Linked DNA regions of Homo sapiens. The protein of the gene in region 4 interacts with the protein of the main gene of each other region in a pairwise test. Each region holds a gene or a part of one and is shown on either strand. Other genes may lie near its edges. The genes, in order: STK3, SPMIP2, MECP2, TRIM69, FKBP1B, ASNS and TRIM55.

The links.
Region 1: the proteins of TRIM69 (region 4) and STK3 interact in a two-hybrid assay, tested with the Homo sapiens proteins (one study listed by BioGRID).
Region 2: the proteins of TRIM69 (region 4) and SPMIP2 interact in binary tests that used the Homo sapiens proteins (3 or more experiments, as listed by UniProt).
Region 3: the proteins of TRIM69 (region 4) and MECP2 interact in binary tests that used the Homo sapiens proteins (3 or more experiments, as listed by UniProt).
Region 5: the proteins of TRIM69 (region 4) and FKBP1B interact in binary tests that used the Homo sapiens proteins (3 or more experiments, as listed by UniProt).
Region 6: the proteins of TRIM69 (region 4) and ASNS interact in binary tests that used the Homo sapiens proteins (3 or more experiments, as listed by UniProt).
Region 7: the proteins of TRIM69 (region 4) and TRIM55 interact in a two-hybrid assay, tested with the Homo sapiens proteins (one large-scale study listed by BioGRID and IntAct).

Annotation. Positions count from the first base shown.
Region 1 is NC_000008.11:98,542,124-98,546,666, reverse strand, and holds part of STK3 (serine/threonine-protein kinase 3), read left to right. Parts: intron 1-4,543. UniProt on the Homo sapiens protein: Stress-activated, pro-apoptotic kinase which, following caspase-cleavage, enters the nucleus and induces chromatin condensation followed by internucleosomal DNA fragmentation.
Region 2 is NC_000004.12:159,024,640-159,029,182, forward strand, and holds part of SPMIP2 (protein SPMIP2), read right to left. Parts: intron 2,086-4,543; exon of another isoform or gene 1,424-2,085; intron 1-1,423.
Region 3 is NC_000023.11:154,031,701-154,036,243, reverse strand, and holds part of MECP2 (methyl-CpG-binding protein 2), read left to right. Parts: exon of another isoform or gene 1-2,320; intron 2,321-3,686; coding exon 3,687-4,037; intron 4,038-4,543. UniProt on the Homo sapiens protein: Chromosomal protein that binds to methylated DNA. It can bind specifically to a single methyl-CpG pair. It is not influenced by sequences flanking the methyl-CpGs.
Region 4 is NC_000015.10:44,763,737-44,768,279, forward strand, and holds the end of TRIM69 (E3 ubiquitin-protein ligase TRIM69), read left to right. Parts: intron 1-3,494; coding exon 3,495-4,036; 3' UTR 4,037-4,091; downstream 4,092-4,543.
Region 5 is NC_000002.12:24,059,330-24,062,592, forward strand, and holds part of FKBP1B (peptidyl-prolyl cis-trans isomerase FKBP1B), read left to right. Parts: intron 1-1,484; coding exon 1,485-1,597; intron 1,598-3,263. UniProt on the Homo sapiens protein: Has the potential to contribute to the immunosuppressive and toxic effects of FK506 and rapamycin. PPIases accelerate the folding of proteins. It catalyzes the cis-trans isomerization of proline imidic peptide bonds in oligopeptides.
Region 6 is NC_000007.14:97,869,379-97,874,649, reverse strand, and holds the start of ASNS (asparagine synthetase [glutamine-hydrolyzing]), read left to right. Parts: upstream 1-2,241; 5' UTR 2,242-2,299; intron 2,300-2,484; exon of another isoform or gene 2,485-2,931; intron 2,932-4,836; 5' UTR 4,837-4,872; intron 4,873-5,271.
Region 7 is NC_000008.11:66,144,129-66,148,671, reverse strand, and holds part of TRIM55 (tripartite motif-containing protein 55), read right to left. Parts: intron 1-4,543. UniProt on the Homo sapiens protein: E3 ubiquitin ligase that plays an important role in regulating cardiac development and contractility, muscle growth, metabolism, and fiber-type differentiation.

The DNA.
Region 1 (4,543 bases), on a different chromosome or scaffold from region 4:
TGCAGAGGATGGTCTTATGGCCTCCAGAACCAGCTAGTGTTGGGGTACAAGTGGATCACAAAGACTCTGTGGTAAAACAGTTAACACATTTTTCATCAACATGTAATATCAATTTTCCATAAGCTGATATAATTTTTAACTCAAATTTTATGATTCTTAACAGATCAATTAGATCATTGAGTGCTTTTTTGTGTCTTTAGGGAGTTACTGAGCTCCTTATGAAACTATATGAACAACTTTTCATGCAGTCATATAGTTGAACATCAGCATATATATAATAGTTAAGAAAAATGAGTCTTTATAGAATCTAATTCATTTAGATTGCAGTGTATTATATTTCAAGGAAGAGAGACTAATGATGATGTTTCCGACATCATACTTTATACCACAGATTTCTGACATTTTGTATAGTGACTTTTAGATTTGACATCCACAAAAATCAATACATGTTATAATTTTGTTATAACTGATTGTATAGGTATGACTTTTTGTCACAGAGATTTTAGTGAAAACCAATTTTGAAGTTGAACAGATAAGTGGTTTTTATAGCTGCAGTTGTTTTATGGACCTCAGCAAATTTTAAATCCCATGAGCCAACTTTCTGTGTTTTTTGTTTTTACAAGTTAGACATCATTCTGTAATGTGAGACTTCAGTGTTTCCAAAATTCTAATCAAGTGATGTTAGTATAACCCCTAGGGATTGTCATATTGTAGTATAGCAGTAGTAAAGTATGTGAAGAAGTTATTGAGGGAAGACTTACTTTTTCTGAAACCATATAATTATTGTAGTTTTGTTTTTCTCGTGATCTAAATCTTTAAAACTTCTTAAATTAGTTGGTATGAGGTCTCAGCTTATGTCACATCAGTCAAAGCCACATTTGCTAATGTGTCTTTAGCATTTTTGTTCCCTAATAAGATGATAGCAGTATATTATTTTTGGTTTTCTAAAATCTCTACAATGTGTACTGAAGATTTAGAATTTCATCTCTTTTTCCATTGGAGTTTCAAGTGAGTTGCCTGATTTAACATCCTTGTCAGTTTAAATTATGTTTACACTTACTCTTTTATACCTTTAACCATGAAGCTAGAAATTATGGGCCTATTTTCCTTACCTCTAGAAAGGAAAATTACCCACAGACCCTTTGAAGGGAAGTGGAGAAAAATGACAAAAAGTATTTTAAAATTTGATCTGCCTTTTAAAAAATGGACGTGGACCCTATGGGCATGTCCCAAGAATAACTTTCTAAACCTGTTTTTAGCAATGATGGCATTACTTTTACCCTCCCGCTCCCAGTCTTCCTATTCAGATATCCCTAAGGCCTCCTCATTCCCCATGGAATGTCCAGGCTTCAGCTGTGTCACCAAGATCCTTCACAGTCTGGCACTAGCCATTATTTACATGTGGATCTCTACTTCTTCCTTATGGATTATGTTTTATCCATACTAGTCTGTGCCAGTTGGAATTCTGAATGCTTGACACTGGGTAAAAGCAGGTTGGTTGTCATTCAAGAAAATCAATTTAGGATTTATTATCCTGGAGTAGATTAGGACCAGGTCAAGAATCTATGTCATCAAACTGATGGGGTAGGAGAGATTATTTCATCATGGGTGACTCTGGGAGAGTAGTAGCTTCAGCAAAGAAAGACTGGGGCTTTTTAGTTTGTTCAGCTCAGATCTACTCAGTTAGCTCTGTTTTTATGGAGGAACTTTCTGATCTTACAGAGCTGTGGCTAGATTGGTAGCACTAGTTGCCCTGGAGGGAAACTATGTCTTATGGGTATCTGAGGAAGAGCCATATTTTCCAGCCAGGTTTTTATTTTTCATGTGTGTATCTGTTGTTTCTCCAGATAAGTCACGAAGTTTGTCCTGGTAAGAATGCTGTATAAATCTCCTCTGCCACATAATAGTACATGCTCTTGGAATATTGGTTTCATGAATGAATACTAATTACAGTAGAGTCAGAGTCAAGCTGTGTGTGTGTGTGTGTGTGTGTGTGTGTGTGTGTGTGTGTGTGTGTTATAGTAGAATTAAAGATACATAGCTCTGGAAGCTAAGAGAACTTTCAGGTAAACCTCCTGCCTTGGTAAGATACTTTCTTTTCAAGTGTTCTACCATCCCTGCTTCTCATTTCACAGAGCAGACCCTCTGAAAATGTGTTCCTTAAGATACCCATTCAGTGAAATTCTCTGATAAATATAGATAAATAATATACAGTAATCAGAATTATTTGGGAAATGCATATTTATCCTAGAGATAAATTATTAGAGAACTACAGTATATATTATTAACTTATTAAATACAAATAGTACAGGAAGGAAACAGTTTAAAAATTACATTACCCAAACTTTCCTTCACTTATTTGACCATGAAAAGCTTTTAATGAGGAACGTATCAGTGATTAACATCCTGTGTAATAAGCATCTGAGAAACACATTTTGGGAAATGCTATCATGAGAGCCCTCTAGTTCCCTGACCCTAGTTCCTAGTCTGCTTTCTTTTTATTAGCACACCCTCCCTTCACTTCTATATCCAGCTTAGAGGCTATATTTCATTATTTCGTTGCTTCTGCCACTCTCGTATGTTCTAAACTCCTCTTAGAGGCTATATTTCATTATTTCATTGCTTCTGCCACTCTCTTATGTTCTAAACTCCTCTTAGAGGCTATATTTCATTGCTTCTGCCACTCTCTTATATTCTAAACTCCACTGCCCTAATGTCTTGTCTTTTCTGCCTCTCCTGGAAAACTTTGATATGGTCCAGTCTCAGTGTTCATCTTCTCTGCATCTTTACCCTGGCTATTGAGTGCTGCTGGAGATAATCTTCCATCTGCACAGATGAGGGCTGCCAGATCAAGACCTTCTCCCCCATTTGGGCCCTCAACTTTCCTGGAGGCCTGTGTTTCTCTGTTCAGCAATTCCTCATTCTACAGAGTGGCTAGTTTAGATCTTCACTAGATCTCTTCTTCCTGCCTCCCATCTCAGTTTCAGTAGATGACGTTGCTCCCTACTTTACAGAAAAAAAGTGAAATGTTATCATGCAAGTACCTAGAGAAGCTGTATAGGTGTTTTAAATGTGGTCTTTGGAATAAGGTTGAAAAATTGAGTCATTCTTAATTTCCGTTTCTTCCTTCACCCTTCATGGAAGTAACATCTCATCAGTTCTGCCCCCTAAATATCCCTATTCTCTTCTCATGATCTCTGCTTGCATTTCTTTAGTGCAAGTCCTCATAGTTTCTCACTTGTGAGGCTTCTAAACTGATCCTCTGCCTCCAATCTTCATTCCCTCCCCACCATACAGATTTCAGCACATTTCTCTTCTGCTTATGCCCTCCCAGTGACTACCAATTGCTTATAGGCTAAAGCTCAACACCAGTTAAGAAGCAGTATATGCTCTGGTTCCTACTTACCTTTCTATTCCCTCTTCATCCTTCTTCCAGCTTCTCAGCTCTTACAGAGCTTTTTTACCTTTGGCCACTTGCAATGCCTAAATCCTCCTGTGGGATTTATGCTTCTTTTGCTAAATCATATTCATTCACTCAGGCTCAGTTAAGAGGTTGCTTCCTCTATCAACCCCAGGTTAGGAATAAGTGCCCCTCTAATAGGCTCCCATCTCACCCCAAGCTTTCACTCTTACAGCACTGTCATGCTTTATTGTGAGCGTGTGCTTTTGTTTATTTCCCACTGTATTTTTGATACCTAATACAATACCTAGCACTTGGTAAGAGTTCATGAAATGTTTTCTGAACAAATGATGTGGTATAGTGAAGAGCATGGGATGTGAAGCCAAATCATTTAGTAATTGTGTTGCTTAATTCTGTCTGAGTTTCAGTGATAAATATTTGTCTCTCTGTTGTGTGTATATGTGCAGGTGTGTGTATTAGGTAAATTCAAAACATGCCTAGCAGTGTTTTAAATATAGTTGATAATCAATAAAGGATAATATTCATCTGTCCACCCTATTAATTTATCCTTCCAACAACTTGATAAGAGGGAGCATCCGGGAAGCCCTGGGCATTGTCAGCCCTGCTTCCCATGCGGTGATAAAAATCATATCTTCCTGGGACCAGAGATGCTGAGCTATCGAGCAACTCTGTTCTTCCCACGGCAAATTCTTGCCTCCACCTTTCCCTGCCTCCTCCAAGACCTTGCTCCATCTCTCTTTTTTTTAGTAAGCTAGTCAAAGGGGCTTCTATAGAGAATGATGATCTCCAAAATGAACTGAGTAGCATCAACATGAATAAGAGGGGTTTGAATGGCAAGATGAGCAAATGCTAGAGAAGTACTCAGCGCACTTGGCATCTCCTGACCGAGAGTGTGTTTGATAATATCTATTGATACGACTTGAGATGAGAGAACTGTTTTCCACTGTTTGTGAAATTTGACATCTCTTTGAGAAAATGAGGAGAGTGTCATGGAAGTATAAAAGTACATTTACATTTTATTTTATTTTATTTTTGGAAATGGAGAAAAAGGTGAATTTCTCAGGTTATAGCTGTTACTAATTGAGCTCCTACTACAGGCCAAACACTGTGCTTAGGATTTTG
Region 2 (4,543 bases), on a different chromosome or scaffold from region 4:
TTCTGAATGACATAGAGTTTTCATCAACCAAGATTATGTAAACTAATGAAGTTTATAGGCAGAATTCCAAACTTGGCCATTCTACTATAAAATATTTTTAATGGAACTTGTTTTTCTTTAATGTTATTTAGATCAGGTTTACAAGAAAATCCAAAAAGCCAATGTTTGTCAGGATAATGATTAGCATCACAAATAACTTCATCTTCTAGGCCCAGTAGCCATTAGTTTACTTATATTGCTTGTGACCTACCTCAGGTGACGATATGCATATACATATATAACACATGTGAAGCCTACCACATGCCAGACACTAAGTACTCTGTACATATTACCCCATTAAATACCCTATGAAGTAGATATTATTATGGCCATTTTACAGATGGTGTAACTGAGACACAGAAGGGTAAGTATCTTGTCCAAGGTCACAACAATAAGTAAGTGGTGGAGCCAGAATAGTTTAGATCCTTGCTACTCAAAATGTGGTCTGGGAACCAGCAGGGTGGGCATCACCTGGGATCTTGATGGAAATGCCGACTCTCAAGCCCACCCCAGTCTTGCTCTGTCGCACAGGCTGGAGTGCAGTGGCATGATCTTGGCTCACTGCAACCTCTATCCCCTGGGTTCAAGCAATTCTCCTGCTTCAGCCTTCCAAGTAGCTGGGATTACAGACGTGAACCACCACACCTGGCTAATTTTTATATTTTTAGCAGAGACGAGGTTTCACCATGTTAGCCAGGCTGGTCTCGAGCTACTGAGCTCAAGTGATCCCCCCACCTCGGCCTCCCAAACTGCTGGGATTACAGGAGTGAGCCAGCACACCCACCCCAAAATCTGCATTTTAACAAGCCTCTCCAGGAGAATAATTTCCACATTAAAGTTTTAAAACCATTTGCTTAAATAATCTTAGATTATTTCTTCCTGTATTTTAAAAACCTGCTTATGGCTTCAGACTTTGGGAAATAAGGTGTACTTGGTTGGCTTATTAAGAAAAAAAAAGAATTTTAAGATGGTTTTGTGTCCTTTCCCCAGCACCAATCTCCCCCAGATAATCAACTTCTCAAGAGAAAAAAACAGTTTAAAAAAATTATTAAATTCATATTATTTACAGGTGCTTTCATTTCATTAAACCATGATAGAAAACCTTATAAAAACCTTATATCCCCCAAATTACAGATTTTTTAAAAACTGAGTTCAAAAGAGTTAAGGGGAAAGCCGACATTGGTGTCTAAGTTTACAGTTTTTGCTTCTTGAAGCAGGATCTTCATGCTTACACCTATTTCCTAGTAGGTAGCACAGGGCCTGGCACACAGTAAACAATCAACTCATCTTGCATTTAATAATTTTTTCACATCCTGTTTCAACAACAGAAACTTCTTTTTGCTTAATCAAGAGCATTTCATCCTGATTTAAAGAAGTGATATTCACAGTGCGCTGCCCATGCCGACCTTGCTAAGCTTGCTCCACACACCCTCCTATGCCCACCATGACCACTGTTCAGCAGATGGAAGATGATGCCTAGTGGACAGCAAAGGCCTTGATGAATACGTGAAGGAACTAGGAGTGGGAATAGCTTTGTGAAAAATGGGCACAATGGCCAAGCCAGAGTGTATCATCATTTGTGATGACAAAAACCTCACCATAAAAACTCAGAGCACTTAGAAAACAGCACAGTTTTCTCGTACCCTGGGAGAGAAGTTTGAAGAAACTACAGCTCATAGCAAAAAAACTCAGACTCTCTACAACTTTACAGATGGATCATTGGTTCAGCATCAGGAGTGGGATGGGAAGAAAAGCACAATAACAAGAAAATTGAAAGATGGGAAATTCATGGTAGACTGTGTCATGAACAATGTCACCTGTTCTCAGATCTATAAAAAAGTAGAATAAAAATTTCATCATCACTTTGGACAGGAAATAGCTATGAAAATCAACAAGCTCAGTTCAATGGGCAAATCTCCATACTGCTTCTTTTTTTTCATTACTGTGTTCAATTATCTTTATCACAAACATTTTACATGCAGCTGTTTCAGTATCAGATTAATTAGGATCATCCCTTTGGTTAATAAATAAATGTGTTTGTGCTAAAAAATAAAAAATAAAAAAATTAAGAAGTGATATTAACATAACCTACAAAGGATCAACTTTGGAAAATTAAATAAAGCCATGGAAAGGCAAATAAATCCTCCTCCCTTCCATCTTAGCTTATGCAGTAATTATTTATATACATATATTTATATTTATATATTTATATTTATGCATATATAAAACAAAACCAAAAAACTTGAAGTTAAGACAAAGCTTTTCCTTAGAAGTCCTCTTCTAAGGGGTTGGTTCAGGTGCTTTTCAAAGGGATAGCAGCAACTGATTTTTTTTTTTCTGCAAATTACACTGTGTTGAGTTAGGTGACCAACAATTTAAGGTAGGATTGATTTGGAGTTGCTGTCACCTATAGATAAGGCTTTCATGTAACACTTATAGTTTTGTAAATGTAATAATATGTCTTATGAAAAGAACAGTGTTTGATGGAGGACAATGAATAAGGTCTCCCACTTTTGCTATTATGATAGCAACGCCTAATATCTAATGTCCTTATCAAATAAATCACTGCAACTGGATATAATTAAGCTAACTAGATGTTTGGCAATTTTGTTTTCAATAAATGGCCCATTATATTCTATCAGAAGATCATTTCCAACTATCTTAGCTTTTAATTTATTATTTTTGAGTAGACTGAAGAATCATGGTAAGGACATATGTATATTGTCTACAATATATCTTAAAGTAATAGAACAAATTTTGATTCAGGGCAAACTGCATGCTATGACAACAGAATAAAAGGCAGGTAAAAATAAAAATAGACAAATAAAATGCAGTTTAGTCAACCCAATGTTTCAGTACCATTAAAATGTGTAAGCTTTTGTCATGAATTAGTTTTTAAAAATCTAAAAGAGTTGTCTTGTGGATTATAGTGCTGGGACTTAAACTGCATTTGCAGTAGGACTATTTTATTATTTCTTCAAACAGGAAACCACTGGCAATTCAGTGTGAAGTCATTTTCTATTTTTAAAATAATTGAATCTGAGACATAACTATTAGTATGACAGTTTCACAGAGCAAAAAATAAGATGAATAAGTGGGTCTGAAATGCTGGCTAATGGAGCAATACATTTCAAAATTACATATACATTTATGTGCTTCTCCGACCACTTACAGTTTCATTCATCATATCGTTTTTTGGCCATTTCCTAGAGAGTATTTCCAATTCTAATGTATTTCTAACAGAAATTTCATGCTGTGATCACTCCTTTGTAAGGTAGAGTTCTGTAATATTTCTGGTTTACATGAGCAGACTTTCTAGTAGGTATATGATGGCTGACTAAATATATTAATACTTTTATTTAGTCAGTAATCTGGATGTAAGGCACATAAATACCCCATATAAACAGGGAGCAGGCAGAAGCTTCCATCCTTCTTACAAGGCTGTGTGGCCTTCAGCAAGTCACTTAACTTACCTGAACCCTGAGTATTCCCATCTGAAAAAATAGGTTAAATTAGATTATCTGTTATAGTGCCTTTTTAATTTTATGTCTTATATTAACTATTTCTTAACTATATTTAATTTGAGCCAAGTAGGAATTAATGAAGAAAAATCTGAATTAAAGAATGTATTTTTAAAGAAATGTAATTTTTAAGTATTTTTTTTTCCTTCGAGATAGGGCCTTGCTCTGTTGGCCAGGCTGGAGTGCAGTAGTGTGATCACAGCTCACTGCAGCCTCGACCTCCCAGGCCCAAGCTATCCTCTGGCTTAGCCTTCTAAGTAGCTAGGATCACAGGTGTGCACCACCACACTCGGCTGATTTTTAGAATTTTTTGTAGAGATGAACTCTCTCTGTGTTGCCCAGGCTGGTCTCAAACTCCTGGGCTCAAGCAATCCTCCCACCTCTTCCTTCCAAAATGCTAGGATTATAGGTGTGTGCCACCGCATTCAGCCCAAGTTTTAAACTTTAAAATTGCATAGGACCTGGAACTGGGTAAACAAATTAATGTCATTTGTATGTAAACAGATGTTTTAAAAATATATAACCATGCTCTAAAGTAGTTTTAAATTTTCTTCCTAATTTTGTTTATAAGGTTTTTATAGTAAAATCTTTGTAATACAAAAATAACATTTTCTAGGCAGGTGCGGTGGCTCACACCTGTAACCCAGCACTTTGGGAGGTGAAGGCTGGTGGATCACTTGAGCTCAGGAGTTCGAGACCAGCCTGGCCAACATGGCAAAACCCCATCTCTACTAAAAATACAAAAATAAGCTGGGCGTGGTGGCGCACACCTGAAATCTCAGCTACTCGAGAGGCTAAGGCAGGAGAATCGCTTGAATCCAGGAGGCAGAGACTGCAGTGAGCTGAGATCGTGCCACTGCACTCCAGCCTGGGCAACAGAGCAAGACTCTGTCTCAAAAAAACAAACAAACATTATTTATAAAATCTCCTCACTATGTCATTACAGAACTTAGCAAATTGGTAGTAAAACTTCTGTGGAAGAA
Region 3 (4,543 bases), on a different chromosome or scaffold from region 4:
CACCTAGACCAGCCCCAAATCCTCAACTGCCCCCACCCTGGGCCACACCTGGACCACTGCTAGAGGCCTCTCATGGGCCCTCCCTGTTTTTCTCTTGCACTCCCCGGGCTTTCTGGCACAAGATGCCCCAGAAGCAGAATCACATATCTCTCCTGGGAGCCAATCTAGTGTGTTTACTGCCCCTGGAGTGTTATTGTTGGCCTTAGAATATGTCCCACTACAGGTTTGCAGAGCACTGTAGTCAAAAGTCATTTGAAATAAATCTTTTCTCTGTGGTATATTGTCAATTTGATATAGAATTAAATTTGTTTCTTTTCTTTTTTCTTTTCTTTTTTTTTTTTTTTAAGAGACAGGGTCTTGGCCAGGCGTGGTGTCTCATGCCTGTAATCCCGGCACTTTGGGAAGCCAAGGTGGGTGGATCGCCTGAGGTCAGGAATTCAAGACCAACCTGGCCAGCATGGTGAAACCCCGTCTCTGCTAAAAATACAAAAATTAGCCGGGCGTGATGGCAGGTACCTGTAATCCCAGCTACTCGGGAAGCTGAGGCAGGAGAAGGCTTGAACTCAGGAGTCGGAGGTTGCAGTGAGCCAAGATCACGCCATGGCACTCTAGCAAGACTCTGTCTCAAAAAAAAAAAAAGAGAGAGAGAGAGACAGGGTCTTGCTCTGTCACTCAGGCTGGAGTGCAGTGATGTAGTCATGGCTCACTGCAGCCTCATACTCCTGACCTCAGGTGATCGACCCGCCTCGGCCTCCCAAAGTGCTGGGATCGTAGGCTGAAGCCACCATGCCTGGCCCGAACTCATTTGTTTTTATTTGCATTAAGTGTAATAAGGTTTTGTTACTTTTAGTTTGAATTTTATTTTGGGTAATATAAACATTTACATGATTCAGAAGTCAGAATTACACTGAGGCATGTTCAGCTAGGCCTCACTCCTGTGCCTGTACCCTTACCTTTTTCCCCCTACCCCATGCAGGGAATCAATTTCATTAGTTCCTGGTGTGTCCTTCCTTAATACCCCCCCTTCTTTCTTTGGTAGAATGCAGTAGATATGTTTGCGCTTTGCTCCCTTTGCTTCACAGTGGATCCTGGAAATGACTCCATCGCAGTTCTTAGAGCTCTTGTTTAGTCCCTTTGGATCTGCACAGTACTCCAGTGTGTGGGCGCACCATAAGTTTATTCAGCAAGTGCCCTGGTGATAGGGATCGGGGGTATTGGAAGCCTTTGGCTGGTAAAAATAATGTTGTAGCAAATAACATCATGCATATGTTCTTTGAGATTTCTGGAGGTGTCTCTTTAGCATAGATTTCTAGAAGGCATTCCTTACGTCACGTTTAGGTTTATAGTTTGACCTCATGGTGATTAAGGTATTTGGGAAATGCAAATGAGAGTTTCGAAGAAGCCAGATCTTTCCCATTAGTTCACTGTTTTTCTCTGACATTAGGACCGTCCGGGTTCTAGGGAGCAGCCCTGGCGTTAGGCAGTGCCATGATGGATTGTGTAGAAGTAGCGATTCCCATCTGTCTGCTTTCTTGGCCCACTCTGCTGGTGGCTCCCCTTCCCTCCCTCCTTTATGGGGAGCTGGGGAGCTGCCTAGGGGTCCATTCTCAAAGGCTGATCTCTGGTGGGCAACAGGCCACACCTAGCTTTCCAGGGTTCTTCGTCATTTCCCATTGAGAGCTGTAAGACTCAGAGACATGAAAAGGAAGCTCTGGCTGGGCACGGTGGCTCACGCCTGTAATCCCAGCACTTTGGGAGGCTGAGGCGGGTCGATCACCTGAGGTCAGGAGTTCGAGACCAGCCTGCCCAACATGGTGAAACCCCGTCTCCACTAAACATACAAAAATTAGCCTGGCGTGGTAGCACACGCCTGTGATCCCAGCTACTCCGGAGGCTGAGGCAGGAGAATAACTTGAACCCGGCAGGCGGAGGTTGCGATGAGCCGATATTATGCCATCGGCAACAGAGCGAGACTCCATCTCAAAAAAAAAACAAAAAACAAAACAAGGCGAGCTCTGTGCTGGGACAGATTAGGGACCCCTCTTTACAGCAAGAAAGACTGCTCTGTGGGTTGTAGGATGCCTTTGTGTATGCAGTGGCTCTAGGTGACTCTGGCAGCCACACTCTGGGCCCTAAACTTCTGGAGGAAGATACAGGATAGGGAGGAACTCAGGGGTGAGTCATGGTGGGGACAAGACATTCCCTCACTCTAAGACCTTGTCACTAGATTGGAACATCTCTTGCCTCCCTACACCTGACCTGATGGTTCTGGAGAGATACGTCCTTGCAGCTTCTGAGTCCCAGCACTAAGCAGCCTTTGGTAACTTCCCTACATCATTTGAGTTCTGGTTTCCTAAGGATGCTTGCCAGTGAGTGCCATGGTGCCCTCATTGCACAGTCTGTGCAGTGTAGACAAGAGGGGAAGTCTCTTGGGGTAGACCAGCCGCAAGGCGGTGACTAGCACTGATGTGAACCACATGGGACAGGGGAGTTGTGGGGCTGAGAACACGGAGGGTGGGAGTAGTCATGCTCTTTTCCAGAATGAACTGCTAACGAAGGGACTCGCAGGTGGCTGCTGCTTCTTTCCAAGCTGCCCCTGTTGTTGCAGAGGCTCTGGAGTCCTAGGAGGTTTCACGGTGGCATACTCGACAGAGTACTAGAGCATCATGGCCAGATAGTGATGCTGGGGTGTGGGGCCTCACGGTGGCCATTTCTGACGAGACCCCACCGGGCCAAAGTGATGTGTAGAGAAGGAGCTGCTTCGGTCACCAGAAAAGAACGGGGAAGCCTCCCACACTAGAATAGGTAGGGTGCTCTTCTCCACCGGCAGGAAGGGGATGTATGGCTCTGCCTGGACCACACCTTTTTCCTTGCTCTTCCCTCCGCATCTGCTGTGGCCGAGGCCATTCCTCATCAGGGAACATGTGTTAGAGGCTCACGCCACCTGGGACCACTTGTCTTATCACCCCCAGGACCCTAGGCGGTAGTTTCCTGTGGCCTGAGTTAGCTGATATTTATATAGTGCCATTGTGCCTTTTCTCCTGTGATGCTCACAGTAAGGATGCCTAGATGGGGTTACCTGTTGTCAAGATAAGGAAACTGAAGCACAGAATGCTGAGGTCATTTGCTGGGTTCATGTTTGGAAAGCGGCAAAGGATTTCAGTGCAGGTTGGCTGGCTCCAAACCTGTGTGTGCTTTCCATGACACTGTACTGTGTGCCTCATTGAGCCTCATTCTAGAAAACCAAAAACACACCCAAGGCCCGGCCTTCACAAAGGAGACCCCTCCCCCATTTGGCTCCCTTTCCAGCAGTCGACGGCCTCTTGTCAGCCATCGAGCCCAGAGTCCCTTGAAGTGCGACTCATGCTGGGGTGGTATGCTCAGGAGCCGCAGTGTTTCCGCTCAGAGGAAAGGGCTCTGATTCTCCTGCAGTGCTAGGAGACTTGTGGGTGGCCACAGTGCAGGTCAGGCACACCGGCCAGCACCACCCACAGCCCAAATTCCTAAAGAAATATTTGGGTCCCAGCTTGGCCCGAGTCTCTGTTGTCCTGGGGAAGGACATCAAGATCTGAGTGTATGATGGCCTGGGGCCTTGCATGTGGTGGGGGTCCAAGCCTGCCTCTGCTCACTTGTTCTGCAGACTGGCATGTTCTCTGTGATACTTACATACTTGTTTAACACTTCAGGGAAGAAAAGTCAGAAGACCAGGACCTCCAGGGCCTCAAGGACAAACCCCTCAAGTTTAAAAAGGTGAAGAAAGATAAGAAAGAAGAGAAAGAGGGCAAGCATGAGCCCGTGCAGCCATCAGCCCACCACTCTGCTGAGCCCGCAGAGGCAGGCAAAGCAGAGACATCAGAAGGGTCAGGCTCCGCCCCGGCTGTGCCGGAAGCTTCTGCCTCCCCCAAACAGCGGCGCTCCATCATCCGTGACCGGGGACCCATGTATGATGACCCCACCCTGCCTGAAGGCTGGACACGGAAGCTTAAGCAAAGGAAATCTGGCCGCTCTGCTGGGAAGTATGATGTGTATTTGATCAAGTAAGTAAGAGCAACTCCTATCTCTACAGGGCAGGGAGGGCAGGGACAAGGATCCCTCATGGAGCAGGAAAATGTATGTGCCCAGGGTGGGGTCGGGGGGAACATAAACAATGAACACTGAGACCAGGTGTGCTTGAAATGACCGTGTACAGAGGTCGCTGCCCTGAGTGGGAAGTTCTCAAGGTAGCAGGCCCTCTATCCTCTCCACACCTCAAGTCTTTATCTGGGGATGGAATAGCTGCGGAAGCAGAGGAACTTGCAGAGCTAGGGGTTCAGAGGGGTGAAGAAGCATGTTTCAGTTCTGCCTTTTAAATGATCCCAAAAAGGTTAGCAGTTTTCAAATGACATTTGCAGACAGCCTCATTTAATTCCATGAGAAGGGTGAGCAAAGGATTATCTTGTTGAAACTGATTCCTGGAGAGACTGAGCACCGTACCTGAGTTCAAACTTGGGAATGTTCTAGATGGTGACTCAGGCCCAGGCACCAACCAGCAGAATGGGCCTCA
Region 4 (4,543 bases):
CTATTGAATTTAACTCTGGCATGCAGTTAACATGGTATGACATCATTTTGTTCCTTCTGAGGCTTAAATAAAGCCTAGTTAGAGTGGCTCAAGAGCAGCCTTTAATCTAGGGCTAACTTAGCCCATTTTCTAAAGTAATATACCCTTCTGATTACCCTACCTGACGTTGACATATTACGACATTTTTCCATTCTGGTTGGCAAGATTGAAAATTATTCCCAGCCTTGTGTGAGCTCCAGAAATTGTTCAGTCTATTGATTTCTGGAGGTTCTTTCTCTGGCCTTGACGAGTTTCACTGCATGCATGTGCAGATTAGTACTCAGCCACAGCCTTGAGAGAATCCCTTTGTAGATGTTTGTAAGTTTCTGTGAAGTTCCCTCCTCTGTGTTACTCTGCTTAGCAAATTGTAGCTGCCTTGGTATGACAGAGTTTTTCTTCCTGTATACTTTGCTCTGTAAAGCCAAACTTCACTTCTAGCAATCTTTTAAAATGCAAACTGATTTTTAAATTTTTGGTATAATTTTACATCAAGAAAACCAAATGAGATTTATTTAATATATGACTATTTATTAATAATGTATTATTTATCCATATACTCTCCCTCTATACAGAGTGGGAAATTGTTTTTCTATGGTAACTGTGGTCAGACCTTTGTAAAATATATTCCATACTTTTTATTTCTAAGTCTTTGCTTATTTTGTAGATCCATATATTCTCCTTTTCTGCCAGCCTTATAAATTAGGCTGTTGCTTTAGAGCAGGAGCTGGCACTTTTCTGTAAAGGTTTGAAGAGTAAATATTTTAGGCCTTGCAGGTGTATGGTCTTTGTTGCTGCTACTTAACTCTGCTCTTGTAGTGAAAAAGAAGCTACAGACAACATATAAATGAATGGTCATAAATGTGCTCCAATAAAACTTTACTTACAAAGTAGGCAGTGGGTCAGATTTGACCTGTTGGTTGTAGTTTGCCTACTCTAGCTTAGGGAATTTTTCAATTTAAAATATTTGCATGAACAAATGCCCAAATAATGTGGAGTGAACCATATGGGGAAAAAGCATTCTAGGACAAGGGAAGAAATTATAAGGACCCTGAAGTAGGAATGATCTTCATTATGTTCAAGGAACTGCCAAAAGACAAGGGTGGATGAATCAAAGTAAATGAGGGAAAGTGTGGTAGGAGATGAAGTAGAGAGGTAGGTAAATCATGTGGCTCTTTTTTCCTCTATAAGGACTCTGGATTTTATCTCAGATGTGATGGTAAACATAAGAGTATGCTGAGCAGGGAAATGGCTTGATCTCATTCATGATATGTGTAGAATAGGGTGCAGATGGGCAAGAGAGGAAACAGAAGAGTAAAAAGCTATTGCAGTAGTTCCAGGCCAGTGATATTTCTGGAAGTAGTCAGAAGTGTTTGGGCACAAGATATATTTTGAAGGTGGAGCTGACAGAACTTTTCGTTATATGAACGTGGCATGAGAAGGAAAGAGAGGACAAAAAGCTGACTCATGGGAATCTTCAGAGCCAGTGCAGGCTGAACTAGCTAGAGATGTGTCAGAGGCTTAGCAAAGAGAGCAGAGTGGGATTCCAAAACGTTGCTAAAAAGTCTTTATGGTACCTCCAAAGAAAACCCAGTCCTCACATCAGAAAGATTAACAACCCAAAGTGAATGGGGATATGTAAGGGGATAGGGATTTAGCCTATATGGAAAAATTCAAGATTCTTAATTCTTCAAAGCCTCTTGTTGGAAAGAGAAGTCCCTGGGATAATGGAAAAGACTCAGGCTTTTCTGAGAAGATAGAGTTAGACTAGAGTTCATGACTAGCCTGGCCAACATGGTGAAATCCTGTCTCTACTAAAATTACAAAAAATATCAGCTGAGCGTGGTGGTGCATGCCTGTAATCCTAGCTACTCAGGAGGCTGAAGCAGGAGAATTGCTTGAACCCAGGAGGCGGAGGTTGCAGTGAGCCGAGGTTGTGCCACTGCACTCCAGCCTGGGGGACAGAGCAAGAATCTATCTCAAAAAAAACAAAACAAAACAAACAAACAAACAAAAAAAAAACAGAGAGAGAGAAACTAGATTGATTCTGCTTCCAAGGATAAATAAATCCAATAACAACAAATGCATGCATACATGTATCTGTGTCCATGGTGTGCACACACATAGCTATTAGGTCTCCTTTATCAAATTTCATGTCAAGGTCCAATGATCTCACATCTGGAATTTGTGTCATCCTCTTGCTGGTCAGCTTTCAACCTCTCTTCATTTAGTTTAGATATTCTTTTTTATACTGCTGCCCTTTGAATTGTCTAAACCAATGCTTGTAAAATTATCTGTGATGAAGGGCCAATCAAAAAAATCTCAATCTGTCATGGACTGATACTTTTGTAGAATACAATATAAATTACTTGAAAAAGTAAAATTAAAAAAAGCAAAGATTACAAAGTACAAGCCCAATTTTGTAATTATTAGATTCAACTGACATAAAATTACTGTCAATTTGCTATGAAAGTTTTTAAAAGTTTACTGTTAATTTCTATACTATCTTTGTCCGAGACTGTTAACCACATGGTATGTGGACCACATTATGAGTAGCAATGACATAAACCACTCTAGATCTCAAAAATCTCATTATCTGTTAAACCAAAATAAACCTCTCACTATTGTCCTCTAAACTCTGTACCAGTTAGTTCAGTCTTGCCTGTGTCTAACAGGCAAGCTCTTGTGTTCTCTTCCACACAGGGGACTGTTTTTAATCCATTTCTTTCTTTCCGTTTATTCAAAACATCCTAAATACATCTCATGTATATACAACTGAATACTTACCTTCCTCAGAAAGCTTTCCTAGAACATCCTTACCTAATTTTTACCCCTTTGGCATTTGTATTTTCTTATATTTATTAGTATAGGTTTATATTATTTGTATTGTTTCCTTTAGTAGAGCATAAATTACTTCTGAGTAAACCCTGATTTTTACCCTAAATATAAAAATGTCTAGAATATAGTAACATGGATACCCAAACAATAAAAAGCATGTAAGTGGCCAGGTGCGGTGGCTCATGCCTGTAATCTCAGCACTTTGAGAGGCCTAGGCAGGTGGGTTGCTTGGGGCCAGGAGTTCAAGGCCAGTCTGGCCAACATGGCGAAACCCTGTCTCTACTAAAAAATTACAAAGATTAGCCAGGTGTGGTGGCACACACCTGTAATCCCAGCTATTTGGGGGGCTGAGGCACGAGAATTGCTTGAACCCAGGAAGCGGAGGTTGCAGTGAGCCGAGATCGCACCACTGCACTCCAGCCCTGGGCAACCTTGTCTGCCTCAAAAAAAAAAAAAAAAAAAAAAAAAAAAAAAGCATATAAGTAATTGCTTGCCTGTCTAAGAGTCTATGTGTATGGGGAGATAAAGTACTATTGAATATGAAATACTATCTTTTACTGTGGGAATTTGTGTTTACCCCCCTTTCTCCCATGCTCTGCTTTCTTTTATTTTCTTACTAGGCCTGTCTCCACTAACTCTGGACCCTAAAACAGCTCACCCAAATCTGGTGCTCTCCAAAAGCCAAACCAGCGTCTGGCATGGTGACATTAAGAAGATAATGCCTGATGATCCTGAGAGGTTTGACTCAAGTGTGGCTGTACTGGGCTCAAGAGGCTTCACCTCTGGAAAGTGGTACTGGGAAGTAGAAGTAGCAAAGAAGACAAAATGGACAGTTGGAGTTGTCAGAGAATCCATCATTCGGAAGGGCAGCTGTCCTCTAACTCCTGAGCAAGGATTCTGGCTTTTAAGACTAAGGAACCAAACTGATCTAAAGGCTCTGGATTTGCCTTCTTTCAGTCTGACACTGACTAACAACCTCGACAAGGTGGGCATATACCTGGATTATGAAGGAGGACAGTTGTCCTTCTACAATGCTAAAACCATGACTCACATTTACACCTTCAGTAACACTTTCATGGAGAAACTTTATCCCTACTTCTGCCCCTGCCTTAATGATGGTGGAGAGAATAAAGAACCATTGCACATCTTACATCCACAGTAATGAGTCATAATATTATACAAATTCAGAGTGTTATTAAAGAGGTATTGAAATATTTTACCAGTCTCACTGGATTCTCTTCTCAATTTTTGGGGAACTATGGAATAATGAAAAGAGGATGCGCAAATCAAATTCCATTCTTTCAGTATCCTAAATGGATTTCACTGGAGGCTTTCAAGGTATCATTCTTCTCTGGGGTCTTTTATGACACAGGAGCCACTCTCATGAGAGTGATCATCATGCTACTGTTACTGGAGCAAACTGCAACTTGAGTTTGTGATGTTTGGGAACCCTTTTCAAATATGCCCAGAAATGATCATGTTGTCATATTTTCCAGCTTAATGACCCTTAGCAGATGAATTTTCAGGTGTTCACTCTTCTTACTATTTTTTGATATACATTTTCATCGTATTTCTTTTTTTAGAACTTACTGCTGTAATTTTATTTTTTTGAGACAGAGTCTCGCTCTGTTGTCTAGGCTGGAGTGCAGTGGCATGATCATGGCTCACT
Region 5 (3,263 bases), on a different chromosome or scaffold from region 4:
TGAAGCAGAGGCTGGGGGAACCAGAACTGCTGGACCAGCACCTGGGGGGGGGTTCTGGTTTCAAACAGCCCTCTTAGTACAGAGTCTGGAGGCCACCTCTGACCAGCTAGGTCACCTTACACTGTTCCCTACAGTAGGGGATAATGTAACCTTTGGGTTTTCCCTTTTGGGGGAAACTTAGGAAACCTTAGGAACCTTATGCGAGGACTCAACCTGAGGCTGGAATAGCTGGGAAAACAGAACTTTAGGTGGAGGAAGTGGCATAAAAAAGTTGAAAAGTCTGGCTGGGCATGATAGCTCACACCTGTAATCCCAGCACTTTGGGAGGCTGAGGTGGGCAGATCACCTGAGGTCAGGAGTTCGAGACCAGCCTGGCCAACATAGCAAAACCCCATCTCTACTAAAAATATAAAAAAATTAGCAGGCATAGTGGCAGGTACCTGTAGTCCCAGCTACTCAGGAAGCTGAGGCAGGAGAATCCCTTGAACCCGGGAGGCGGAGGTTGCAGTGAACCGAGATCACACCACTGCACTCCAGCCTGGGCAACAGAGGGAGACTCCGACTCAAAAAAAAAAAAAAAAAAAAAAAAGTTGAAAAGTGCAGAGGAATTTGAGAAAGGTATGACCTGAAAAGGACACAGAGGGAAGGGAAGGAAGGGGAGAACAGAGAGGGTTATAAGCAGGCCAGAGCCGGATTGTGAAGTGCCTGTATGCAAGGTAGGCATTTGGATTCTGCTCTGGGGAGCTATTGAAGTATTTTGAGCAGGGGAGTAATAGAATCAGATTTGTGTTTAAAGAAAAAAAAAAATCAGTCTGGATGCCAAGTGGACAATGAAATGGAGGCGAGTAAAAGAGGATCAAAAAGACCAGTTAGGAGGTTGTTCCTGTGTACAGGTGAGATAAGCTGGTGACTTGGTCGTGGTAATAGAAACAAAGAAAAGGCCAGGCACAGTGGCTCATGCTTGTAATCCCAGCACTTTGGGAGGCCAAGGTGGGTGGATCACCTGCAGTTCAGGAGTTCAAGACCAGCCTAGCCAATATGGCAAAACCCTGTTTCTACTAAAAATACAAAAATCAGCTGAGTGTGGTGGTGGGCGCCTGTAATGCCAGCTACCTGGGAGGCTGAGGCAGAAGAATCGATTGAACCCAGGAGATGGAGGTTGCAGTGAGCCGAGATTGTGCCACTGCACTCCAGCCTGGGTGACAAATTGAGATTCTGTCTCAAATAAATAAATAAATAAATAAAAATAGAAATGAAGAAAATAGGTGGATTCCAAAGATATGGAGGACTTAGTGATAGGCAGTATGTGGGGGTGAGGCAGAAGGAAGTGTCCAGATTTCCTGCTTGGGCAACAGGATGGATGGGGAGGATCGGAAGAGGAGCAGGTGTGTGCAGAAAAGGCATTCCATTTTAGACATGTGGAATCTGAATTGGGAGTTTACTCATGACCACAGCTCTATTGCACCCGATTCTTGCTTTGACAGGAATGCTCCAAAATGGGAAGAAGTTTGATTCATCCAGAGACAGAAACAAACCTTTCAAGTTCAGAATTGGCAAACAGGAAGTCATCAAAGGTTTTGAAGAGGGTGCAGCCCAGGTAGGATGAGGATTCGCATTAAAGGGGATCTGGGGAGTTGGGGATCTGGGATCAGCACTCTGCCCTCCACCTCCACCTTCACCCACTCACAGACCACTACTGCTTTGACTCTACAGCCAGGGCATGGCAACGCCATCTGGTGTCCCCTCCTGGCTTTGCGTCCCCACCCCTCTCCTTGCCAGCATACCTCTTTTGTGTCCCTGGGGGCTCTCATCCCAAGCACATCCCCCTAGGCTTGCTCAGAACTAGCTGAGAGAGCCAGGCACGGTGGCTCACACCTGTAATCCCAGCACTTTGGGAGGCCGAATGGGGTGGATCAGTTGAGGCCAGGAGTTCAAGACTAGCCTCACCAACATGGTGTAACCCCGTCCCTGCTGAAAATACAGGCGTGGTGGTGCATGCCTGTAATCCCAGCTACTTGGGAGGCTGCGACAGGAGAATTACTTGAACCGGGGAGGTGAAGGTTGCAGTGAGCAGAGATTGTGCCACTGTACTCCAGCCCAGGCGATGGAGTGAGACTGTCTCAAAAAAACAAAACAAAAAAATAAACTAGCTGAGGTCTACCAGTTGCCTGGGACTGAGGTAGTGGAAGAGTTGGGGTGGAGTAGGCCAAGAAAATTTTTCGTTTTTTCGCTTTTTTGAAAAGAATTTCAGAATTACAAAAATATTAAAGAAATAGTACAGAGTTCTTCTATATTCTATCCAGCTTCCCCTTCTTGCATAACCATAGTACAATTATCAAAACCAGGACATTCACACTGATACAAATTACTTACTTATTCAAATTTTTGATTATTCAAAATTCAAAAGTAGATTTAAATTTCACCAATTGTCCCACTAATGCTGAGTGGGTTCTCAACAACTGCTGTGATGAGCCCTGGTTCAAGCTGTTCTTTCTTGGTCTGTCTGTGAAGTCCTATGATGCTCCCTTACGATAGGTCTTGTTTTTGGTGTTTTTTTTTAGAAAGAGTATCACTCTGTCACCAAGGCTGGACTGCAGTGGCGCAATCTTGGCTCACTGCAAGCTCCGCGTCCTGGGTTCACGCCATTCTTCTGCCTCAGCCTCCCTAGTAGCTGGGACTACAGGCGCCCGCCACCACGGCCGGCTAATTTTTTTGTATTTTTAGTAGAGACGGGGTTTCACCGTTGTTAGCCAAGATGGTCTCGGTCTCCTGACCTCGTGATCTGCCCGCCTCAGCCTCCCAAAGTGGTGCGAGCCACCGTGCCCGGCCTGTTTTTTGTTTTTTATTTATTTATTTATTTTGAGACGTAGTCTCACTCTGTTGCCCAGGCTAGAGTGCAGTGGCACAATCTCAGCTCACTGCAACCTCCTCCTCCCAGGTTCAAGCAATTTTCCTGCCCCAGCCTCCCGAGTAGCTGAGATTACAGGTGTGCACCATCACCATCACGCCTGGCTAATTTTTGTATTTTTAGTACAGACGGGGTCTCACCATGTTTGCCAGGCTGCTCTCGAACTCCTGACCTCAGGTGATCCACCTGCCTCGGCCTCCCAAAGTGCTGAGATTACAGGTGTGAGCCACCACGCCCGGACTTTTTGTATTTTTTAGTAGAGACAGGGTTTTGCCATATTAGCCAGGCTGGTCTTGAACTTCTGGACTCAAGTGATCTGCCCACCTTGGCTTCCCAAAAGTGCTGGGATTACAGG
Region 6 (5,271 bases), on a different chromosome or scaffold from region 4:
CCAGCTGAAGCCATGACAGAAGAACGTGGATTATGAAGATTTTATGGACATTTATTAGTTCCCCAAATTAATACTTTTGTAATTTCTTATGCCTGCCTTCACTGCAATCTCTAAACATAAATTGTAAAGATTTCATGGACTAAACTTATCACTTCCCTAATCAATACCCTTGTGATTTCCTATGCCTGTCATTACTTTAATCTCTTAATCCTGTCAGCCGAGAAGGATGTATATCGTCTCAGGACCTGTAATAATTGCGTTAAGTACACAAATTATACAGCATGTGTGTTTGAGCAATATGAAATGTGGGCACCCTGAAAAAAGAACAGGATAACAGCAATTGTTCAGGGAATAAGAGAGATAACCTTAAACTCTGACCGCCGGTGAGCCAGGCAGAACAGAACCATATTTCTCTTCTTTCAAAAGCAAATGGGAGAAATATCGCTGAATTCCTTTTCTCAGCATGGAACGTCCCTGAGAAAGAGAATGCGCACCTAGGGGTAGGTCTCTAAACTGGCCCCCCGGGGCGTACCTGTCTCTTATGGTCGAGACTGCAGAGGTGAAATAAACTCCAGTCTCCCATAGCACTCCCAGGCTTATTAGGAAGAGAAAATTCCCACCTAATAAACTTTGGTCAGACCGGTTGATCTCAAAACCCTGTCTCCTGATAAGATGTTATCAATGACAATGGTGCCAAAACTTCATTAGCAATTTTAATTTCACCTTTTGCATCTCCTTGAAATGTCTGCCTTTGCACACTCTCCCTGAAAGAGGAGGGCAAGGGAGCCAGGATAGAAAGTGAGGTGGAGAAGTGTAGAGCTCTGGACGGACAAGCAGGAGATACGCAGCACAAGGAAGCACACTAGGTAACACACCAAGCAGGGGAACCTGTCTTTCACTACATAGGCAAGATGCTACGGGAAATGGGCTCTGGGTTTACACAGATTATGACTCAGTTCTCTACTGTTGTGAAGCTGTGTTTGGATAAATCCCTCAACTTTTCTGAGTCTTATTTTTTCATTTGTAAAATGTAGATAGAAGACCTACTTTCCCACATTGCTCTCAGGTTTAAAGTACGTCAATTAGGATACAGCAAAGTCTGTTTGATACTGAAAACTTTCCAGCAACAATGAACCTTAGAACAAGTCATCTCTCATCTTTGCTCTTGCCTGTAACTACTAAGCGACTACTCCATCTTCTGTTCTTAGGGATTTTAAATTGTTGACGTTTTTGATTTAGTCAGGAATGCGTTGTATGGGGATATCAAACCTGCATGCTCTCCAAGCATTGACTGTAGTCTGATCTTAGTAGGTCGTGCACATATAATTTTACTATTTCTCAATTTATTTCGGTGCTGATGTAATTAGTAAAATACGATTTAAGAGTGTTATGATACTTTTTAAAAATCGTGATGTCTTTTCTTCATCAAAGAGATACTTAAAAGCACATAATCATCTTGTGGAGGCAAGTTGACAAAATCCTTTTTGAGATTCTAAAAGGAATCTTTGTACTTAAAATGTTTAAGGACCACTGATGTATTTTGGCTTCATGTATCAATTAGATTTAGATTTTATTGTTTTAGAGATGGGGGTCTCCCTTTGTCGCCCAGGCTGGAGTTGAGCTCACCTCAGCCTCAAACGCCTGGGCTCAAACTATCCTTCTGCCTCAGCCTCCTGAGTTGCTGGGACTACCATGGTGTGCCACCAATTTTTATAGAGATGTGATCTCGCTGTGTTTCCCAGGCTGGTCTTGAACTCCTGGTTTCAAGTGATCCTCTTGCCTTGGCTTCCCAAAGTGTTGGGATTACAGGCGTGAGCCACCGCTCCTGGCCCCGATTTATTAATAGATCTTATAAGGACATTTTAGGCCTCACGCATCAGTTTCTTAGGACAAGCTTTTCTCTGCACTGCATAATAAATCAGACGGCAGTGCAACAAAAAAACGGTGATGATTTCCCGAAGAACAAACCAAGTTCAGAAGCCTCCCTAATTGTCAGAACAGCAGGTAGCCTGGGCGGAGCTCTGAGGCTATCCTTAAACAGGCGCACTGAGACGCAAGGCGCTGGAAACAAAAGAGCTCCTCCTTGCGCCCTTCCGCCGCCCCACTTAGTCCTGCTCCGCCCCGGACACCCCGCGGCCCCGCCCCTGTGCGCGCTGGTTGGTCCTCGCAGGCATGATGAAACTTCCCGCACGCGTTACAGGAGCCAGGTCGGTATAAGCGCCAGCGGCCTCGCCGCCCGTCAAGCTGTCCACATCCCTGGCCTCAGCCCGCCACATCACCCTGACCTGCTTACGCCCAGGTGAGCCGGGTCCTGCGCCCCGTGCCCTGCGCCCCGCGCCAGCATCCTCCTCGCGTGCCCTGGGGCTGCTCCGGAAGGAAGGGGTGGAGGATGCGGTCTTCAGCCTGGCACCCGGCAGACGCGGTTCGCGGGCGCCTGCTGATGCTGCGGCTCCTGCGGTAGGGAGGGCGGGGCGGACGCCTAGCGATTGTTACGCACCTGACAGCTAGCGGAAGGACCTTTCTGTCCTGGTTCCCTGAAGCATCGAGAGGGAACCGCGGCCGGCAGGCCGGACCGCTCCGGAGAGGAGGCAGCGGCAGTTTGAGCCCCTGTAAATGTTATATGTGTACTTTTTTTTACTATGTGGCGTCGAAGCCTGTGGACATTTTCGCGGTCCGGGTCCCTGCGGCGGACGGGTCGGATCGTGCTCGTGGCCAGGGCGCAGTCAGGTGTCGCGTGGTCCTGATCTAGGAAGAGACTGCGGCCTTATCACCGTCTCGGTGTCTGCTTTCACCTTCAACTGCCCCCCTCCTCACCTGGACCGCTCACCCTCCTCCTCCCCTCTCACCCCGCCATCCCCACCAGTCCCCACCTGTCTCTGTAGACTGCAAGACTCATCAAGTGACTTGCTGAGCAAACCCTGCCGAGAAGAGGTCTGTTTAGGGACACAGGCGACCAAGTACAGAAAAAGGCAAAAGAACTAGCATGCCTTTTTCAATGGCTGTCATTTTGCAGGGCTGGCTTCAGATGATTGTTATAGCTTTAAATAAAAAGGACAGTTTTCATCTCGGCCCGTGGCCTACATTATTTCTTTACTGTCCATTGCCCTGGGCGCTTGACTAATAATTTAACAGCAGTTTTTTTTTTTAAATTTTAAATCATGATTCATAGCATTGCTGTAAGAGTAATTAGAGGTAAAGTAGGGCTTGAACCTGTCTGTAGTTGGTTACTTACTGAGATCTTAATATAAAAGTAAAGGGAGAGGGTGAAGTTGTAAGTAGCACTAAGTGGAATAGAAATTAAATGCACTGAAACTGCCATGTCCAGTTCGGTAGGCGCTAGCCACCTGTAACTGTTGAGCACTTGAAGTGCTGGCTAGTCCTAACTGAGATGTATTGTGTTAAATACACTGGATTTTGTCGTTGGAGTAGGAAGAACAGTGTAAAATATCTGCTCGATAATATTTTATATTGATTACATATATGTTAAAATGTTACTATTTGGGACATACTGAGTTAAGTTTATTTAAAATTAATTTCACCTTTTTCTTTTAATGGGGCTACTAGTATATTTAAAATTACATATGTGGCTTACATATATATTTATTGGACAGCACTGTTCTAGAAGTTTAGGAAGAAATAAGAAAAATATTGAGAACAGGTAGCGGCAGTAGGAACTTTGCCCTCCTATAAGACTGATTCCAATAAAAATAATAGGTTATAGTTTTAATTGGCTTTTTCCTACTAGAAAAAATAAGTGTACTTTACATGCCTCTTTGTTCTCCCTTTTTCCCCTCCAGTTTAGTGGTTAGAATGTATTTATTATAGCAGGATTAATACAGGGATTCACTAAGCAGCGTTAAGAAGACTTAGGTAACTGATTCCCTGATGACCATACTTGATTTTCAAAGCACTTTCCTAACCCGTTTTAAATTGATATAGAGTCAAAGGCAGATGGCTTATTAGTAGTCATCTCATTTAAATCTTATGGAATTTTTCCAGTAAATCTCAAATAATTTGTTATAGGCTATTTGGGCTATTTGGTCAAGTGCATGGAAGAGACAGCATAGGACATGTGGTACTTCATTTCCAAATTGCTTGAGATGATTTTCATTCTAACCATATATTATTTGGTTCTGGTTTTCCGGAAAAGCCAGCTAAACCTTTGGTTCTTTTAGATATAAATGAAATATCATCAAAGAATAGCTCAAAGTGACTTATGCAACTTGAATGTATATTTTTTCCTTAGGGTGTTTATCCCAAACTATTTGGGCATTTGCTGCAATTCGCAGTTTTTTTAAAAAAAACACCAAAATAGTTATTTTTCAAGTTAGAGATGTTTTAATTAAAACATCTTGTTTTTGGTGTATCCATTGACATTCTCAAAACGGAATGTATCTGGACCTCTGTGTACAATCTTCGTAGCACTCAGACACTGAACAGAAAGGCAGTCATCACTGCCAAACAGGGCCCAAATGCCACACATGGTGCAATGTGTCATTTTGAGCTGGCAGCAGCCAAATAAAACAGCCCTTTATTTCACAGTTGAGAATTTGAAATTGGAAAGTAATTAACGTATGTAAGGGTGATTTATTTGCTTCCGGGCTTATAGGGATGAGCTAAGTTTTTTATTAGGGATGTTGTTGGTGTATATGTCTCACCTACTTTGCTTCCTTACTGAACAATGCAACTTTGAGACAGAAATATTTGAGAACATTTTTGTCAGTGAGGACATTTTGATAGTGAATATTTTGTATCTTCTATTAACTTGAAATGTTTTATTTGTTATAAAGCCAGGATATCTGATATCAAATTAAATTGTTTTTTTTTTCCCTTTAGATTTTCTTCAATCACATCTGAATAAATCACTTGAAGGTAACCTAGATGTAATATAGTGAAATGCTTGAAAGAGCTGCGTATCTTTTACACTTACAGCAGTATGATTTTCTGTTGTACCCATTATATGGTACCTGCAGCTAGTTCAGATAAAGAGGGCATTTAACTGTCAAGGGAACCTGAGAGGAGACTCTAGTAATCTGGAAAGTCTGTTGGATCTTTGAGGGATTTTGGGATGGTGAGAGTGGGGCTAGGATCTCTGGCTAGGTTGGAGCCAGCCTGCATTTGTATCTGTATCTTGGAAGCAAACTTAGAATGCAGAGACAGATGTGGCATGGACGCTGTCAGCTCTAGCCAACCACTAAATCCTAAGGTGGGAGAGATGCAGGCTTTGGCTAGGTGCTAAGCTGCTGTAGCCGGTTGAATGTAGAGGTCACT
Region 7 (4,543 bases), on a different chromosome or scaffold from region 4:
CAATTTCTCTCATAACATTCTACTATCCTCCATTGTATACCCTGAATTCCAGCAAAAATAAACCACTCACTTTCTTTGTTCATGCTTTCCCTTCTGTCTACAGTGTTCTTCCCCAAGTCACCACTGCAAACTCTATGCAATTTCAAAGACATTGTCAGACTACCACTTCTTCCATAAAGTGTCCCTTGATGTTTATGGCTGAATGCAACTTTTAACTTTCTGAAATCTCATAATAGTTACCATTGATAGCATATATCTGTATCTACCAGATCCTCTATTTATCCAATACTGCCTAAGAATGGGTAATACTGTATCTGGTCTATGCTCTTGGAGAGAAAGGCTGTGTTGGAAGTCTGGCTTGCACATTTGTGTTGTGTGGCTGAAGTATCTCCAGTACCATCCAGATCCCTTTAGTCTGGGCCCATCTTTAAATCATAATTAATTATCCAGTTCATCTAGTCATTGGCCTTTTGGTTTTTCAATCCCTGGTAAGCTTGGTGTGCATGTATGCCAATCTCCTTGGACTTGACCATCTCTGGGTCCAGGACCTTTATAGCTGAGAGCAGGTTGTGAGCCATAGTGATCTAACCTAGCTCTCCCGCACAGTGAGAGCTTCTTGGGAATCCAGCAAATTTATTTCTGACATCTCTGACCATTCTATACCCTTTATTACATATTCTTTCATTTTGGTAAACATTGAAGTCTTTTATGTCATGTATTGCTTTCTTCCTTTATGTGAATTTCTTAAATATCCAAAGTATATTTTTTTTGAGGGTAGAATCTGGGTCTGCCTAGGACACAGAGCACCTTGGATAGTAGCTGTTCACTAAATATCTGTTGAATAGATTTTGTGGTTTTTTTTTTTTTTTTTTTTTTTGAGATGGAGTCATGCTCTGTCACCCACGCTGGAGTGCAATGGCGCGATCTCGGCTCACTGCAAGCTCCACCTCCCAGGTTCAAGTGATTCTCCTGCCTCAGGCTCCTGAGTAGCTGGGATTACAGGCACATGCCACCTTGCCCGGCTAATTTTTGTATTTTTAGTAAAGAAGGAGTTTCACCATATTGGTCAGGCTGATCTCAAACTCCTGACCTCATGATCCACCCGCCTCGGCCTCCCAAAGTGCTGGGATTACAGGCGTGAGCCACCAATCCTGGCGGAATAGATTTTTTTTTTAATGTGTTTCATTTCCTCTCAATTTCTCTACTATTCTCAGTATGGAGTCAGGGAGAATGACCTAAACCAAATTGTTGATTATGAAGATACTCTGCAAATGTGCAAGAAATACATCCCTTACTCCATTGCCTTCCTTGGAACAGTCAATTCTCATCACAGTTCCCAACCAAATTATAATGCATGGAGATCCAGTGGTGCCAACTATTTTAATAGTAAATGCCTTACCACTGTCATCCACCCATTCATTCATGGATTTAACAAACAATGCATGTCATTTGTGTCAAGACTCTGGGGATCCAAAAAAGAATTAACATAGTTCCTATTCTCAAGGAGCTCACAGTTCACTGAGAAAGACTATAGACCAATAATGTAATTCAATATGGTAGGCTGAATAATGTAAATATTTTAGAGATTTATACCAGATGCTTTAGAAGCATTTATGGAATCTTTGTCCAACCCTTTGTGTAGGTGGAGGAACTTTGAGGGGAGCCAGAAATGTTGACTCAGGAAGAGTTTCTCAGAGGAATTAGTACTTGAACTTGACCTTAAGGAGGAATAGGAGTAAAGGAGGTTGAGGAGGGGATGAAAATGCTTGAAGTCCTAGCAGTTGTGAAAGTAATGGAACAAGGGCCCATGCAGCATGTCAAGATGTGGAAATTGCCTGGCTTGACAAATTTCCACTCATTTCCAGCCCTTTAGCTTGAGAGTCGGACTGTTCAACCAGGCCTAGAAACTGAAACCTATTAGTAGCTTTCCAATCAAACTCTCTTTCACTGTATTATCTTTTGTTCCAACCTTCAGGCAACCAGGTGCCCACTGTACACATGAAATAAGCCTCTCTGATATTTAGAAGCTCTACTGTGATCATATAATGGTTTCCAGCTTGTTTCTCCCAAATGAGTTGTGCACTTGAAACATTTATAATATGAGTATTATATTAAGATGTAATACAGGTAGAAAGTCTTTGATTCACAAAAATTTTCTCCTATGTGATTTAATATGTGAGAACATTCAAGTTTATGGCAGCCAAGTCATTTACAATGAGACAGATGTGAAGCATGTGTAATCTAGTGTACTCTCTCAAGTCAAATAAAGATTAAATCACTTATTTTGACCATATAATTTTTTTTGGCAGTTTAAATGGAATAACTAATTTCATTCCTATATTACTTGCAATTCCAAGCATTATTTTATTTCTATTCTGTTTTTTTAAATAACTTATATTGAATGTTAGTAAAACTACTATCATTTGTTTATACTTCATAGTGCAGGAAATGCTACCCCATATGCGGTCTATGCTTTATTAAAATTATTATATCATTAAATACTTTGTAAAGTGCTTATAATATTACCTGGCATATATTGGTACTGGATCAGTGTCTATTAAATTTAGGTACAAATTCCTTAACCTGAATTATTCAGTTGTGGAATTTTGAAGCTGCATGGAATATTAGAAGTAACCTGCTCCAAATCAATCATGTCACTCATGTGGAAACTGAAACCCAGCAGAGCTGTCACTTTCTCAAGGCCATCCGACCATTTATTATTGGTGCCTGGCCTACAGTCAAGGTCTTTGAACTCCTGGGTCATTGCTACTCTCACCACACCCAGCTGGGCCCATATTTTAAGTAACTTTAAAAAATTATATGAAGTGCTTGTAAATGGAATATATGCCTTTTAACAAATGTACTGGCCAGGTGCAGTGGCTCACACCTGTAATCCTAGCACTTTGGGAGGCCAAGGCTGGAGGTGGAGGCTGCAGTGTGCCAAGATCGCGCCATTGCCCTCCAGCCTGGGTGACAGAGTGAGACTCCACCTCCAAAAGAGAAAAAAAAAACAAAACCCAAATTCACTATGCTTAAGGTAGATTTTTTAAAGGCAAGGCATCTTAAATTGTTTCAGAATTATATTCCTAGTTCTTTCAACAAAATTCACCAACCACTGACTTTGTACCTGGCATTGTATGATCTAATAACCTGCCATAATTTTCCATTGTTTTGGAGAATAATGAACAAAAAAAAGTATCATAAATGATAAATATAAAATCATTATATTTTCTAATTCCTAATGGAAAAAACTTTTTTCTCTTGTTTAATTAGCTTTTAATATAATTCTATGCAAAAAATGGTAAGAGTTAGATAAATCTGTTTCTGAAACGGCAAAAATACATGCCTCTTCTTTGGAATTACGAAATTGGAACTTACAGACTTTTAGAAATTAACTCAAAATGTTCAGGTTAACCTAATGTCATATTCAAATGTGAAATACTCCATGAAATGAAGTCTCCTATTTTTTCACACTCTTTGAGGTAGAACCCACACACAAGAGACTAACTTAGATGTCCCCTAATCTTTCTTGGCTTCAAGACCATCAAAGTGCTGTGAAAGTCAGGGAACAATAAACACCTCAGGTTATCAATTTGCCCTCTAAGCTGATGAGGGAACAGATATGTGCCATGAAAAAAAAATGTTCTCAGAGGCCACCTAGCTACTGACAGTGATGACTCTGAATTTCAGTACCTACTGTGCCTTTGTTAATGTGAATCTGCAACACTTTCAGCAGTGACTTTCTAGCAGCCTGAAAAATGGAATAGGAAAAAATGTGGACTTTTGCATTGTGAAAACGTCTGCAGACAGAACACTTTAAAGGACTGTTGTTACCTACAAAAGCATGATAGCAACCATATTTGTCTCTTCTCCACAAAAACTTCCTCATCTCAAAGACTGCTCCTTGCTTTTAGCATACTTTTTCATTTACTTGAGTAAAAAGGTATGTATCTTTAAGACCAATTCGGAGCCATACACCTCCCCTCTTCTCTGGACAGTAATTCAATCAAGATATACACTTTTTGAGCTTTCGAGTTTATCTTTTCAAATAGTCTCCATTTTCTTCCTTTTGATGTCTGTGCTTCCTACATCCTCTGTGTGTGCACCTGTGTGAGTGTGCTTAGCAAGTGAAGTATACCTCCACCATAAATGAAGTAGGTATTGGTCTCCGGGTATACTCTGATGCAAAGCCTCTGGCTGCTGCACAGCCTTCCTCCTGGGTCTGCTAGGACAGTTATATTTCTTGGCTTCTTGGGAGAACCAAATTAAAGTTGTCTATAATATTTTAATGAAAATAAAATTCATCCCATTTCTAGGGAGAATGCAGTGTGGATGCAATATACCAAAAAGGGATGATTTTATAAAGTGAAGATCATCCCTCCCATATTGAAATGGTAAGATGATGATGGGTGGGATATTTGTTTCTAACCAATGCCAACATTTCTGGATGTAAAGAAAAAAAATCAAATGGTCATTTGGTTGTTTCCTTAGAAGTGAGTAGGTAACATTTAACATTGACCTAAAGCCATTGTTGAACTGTTGC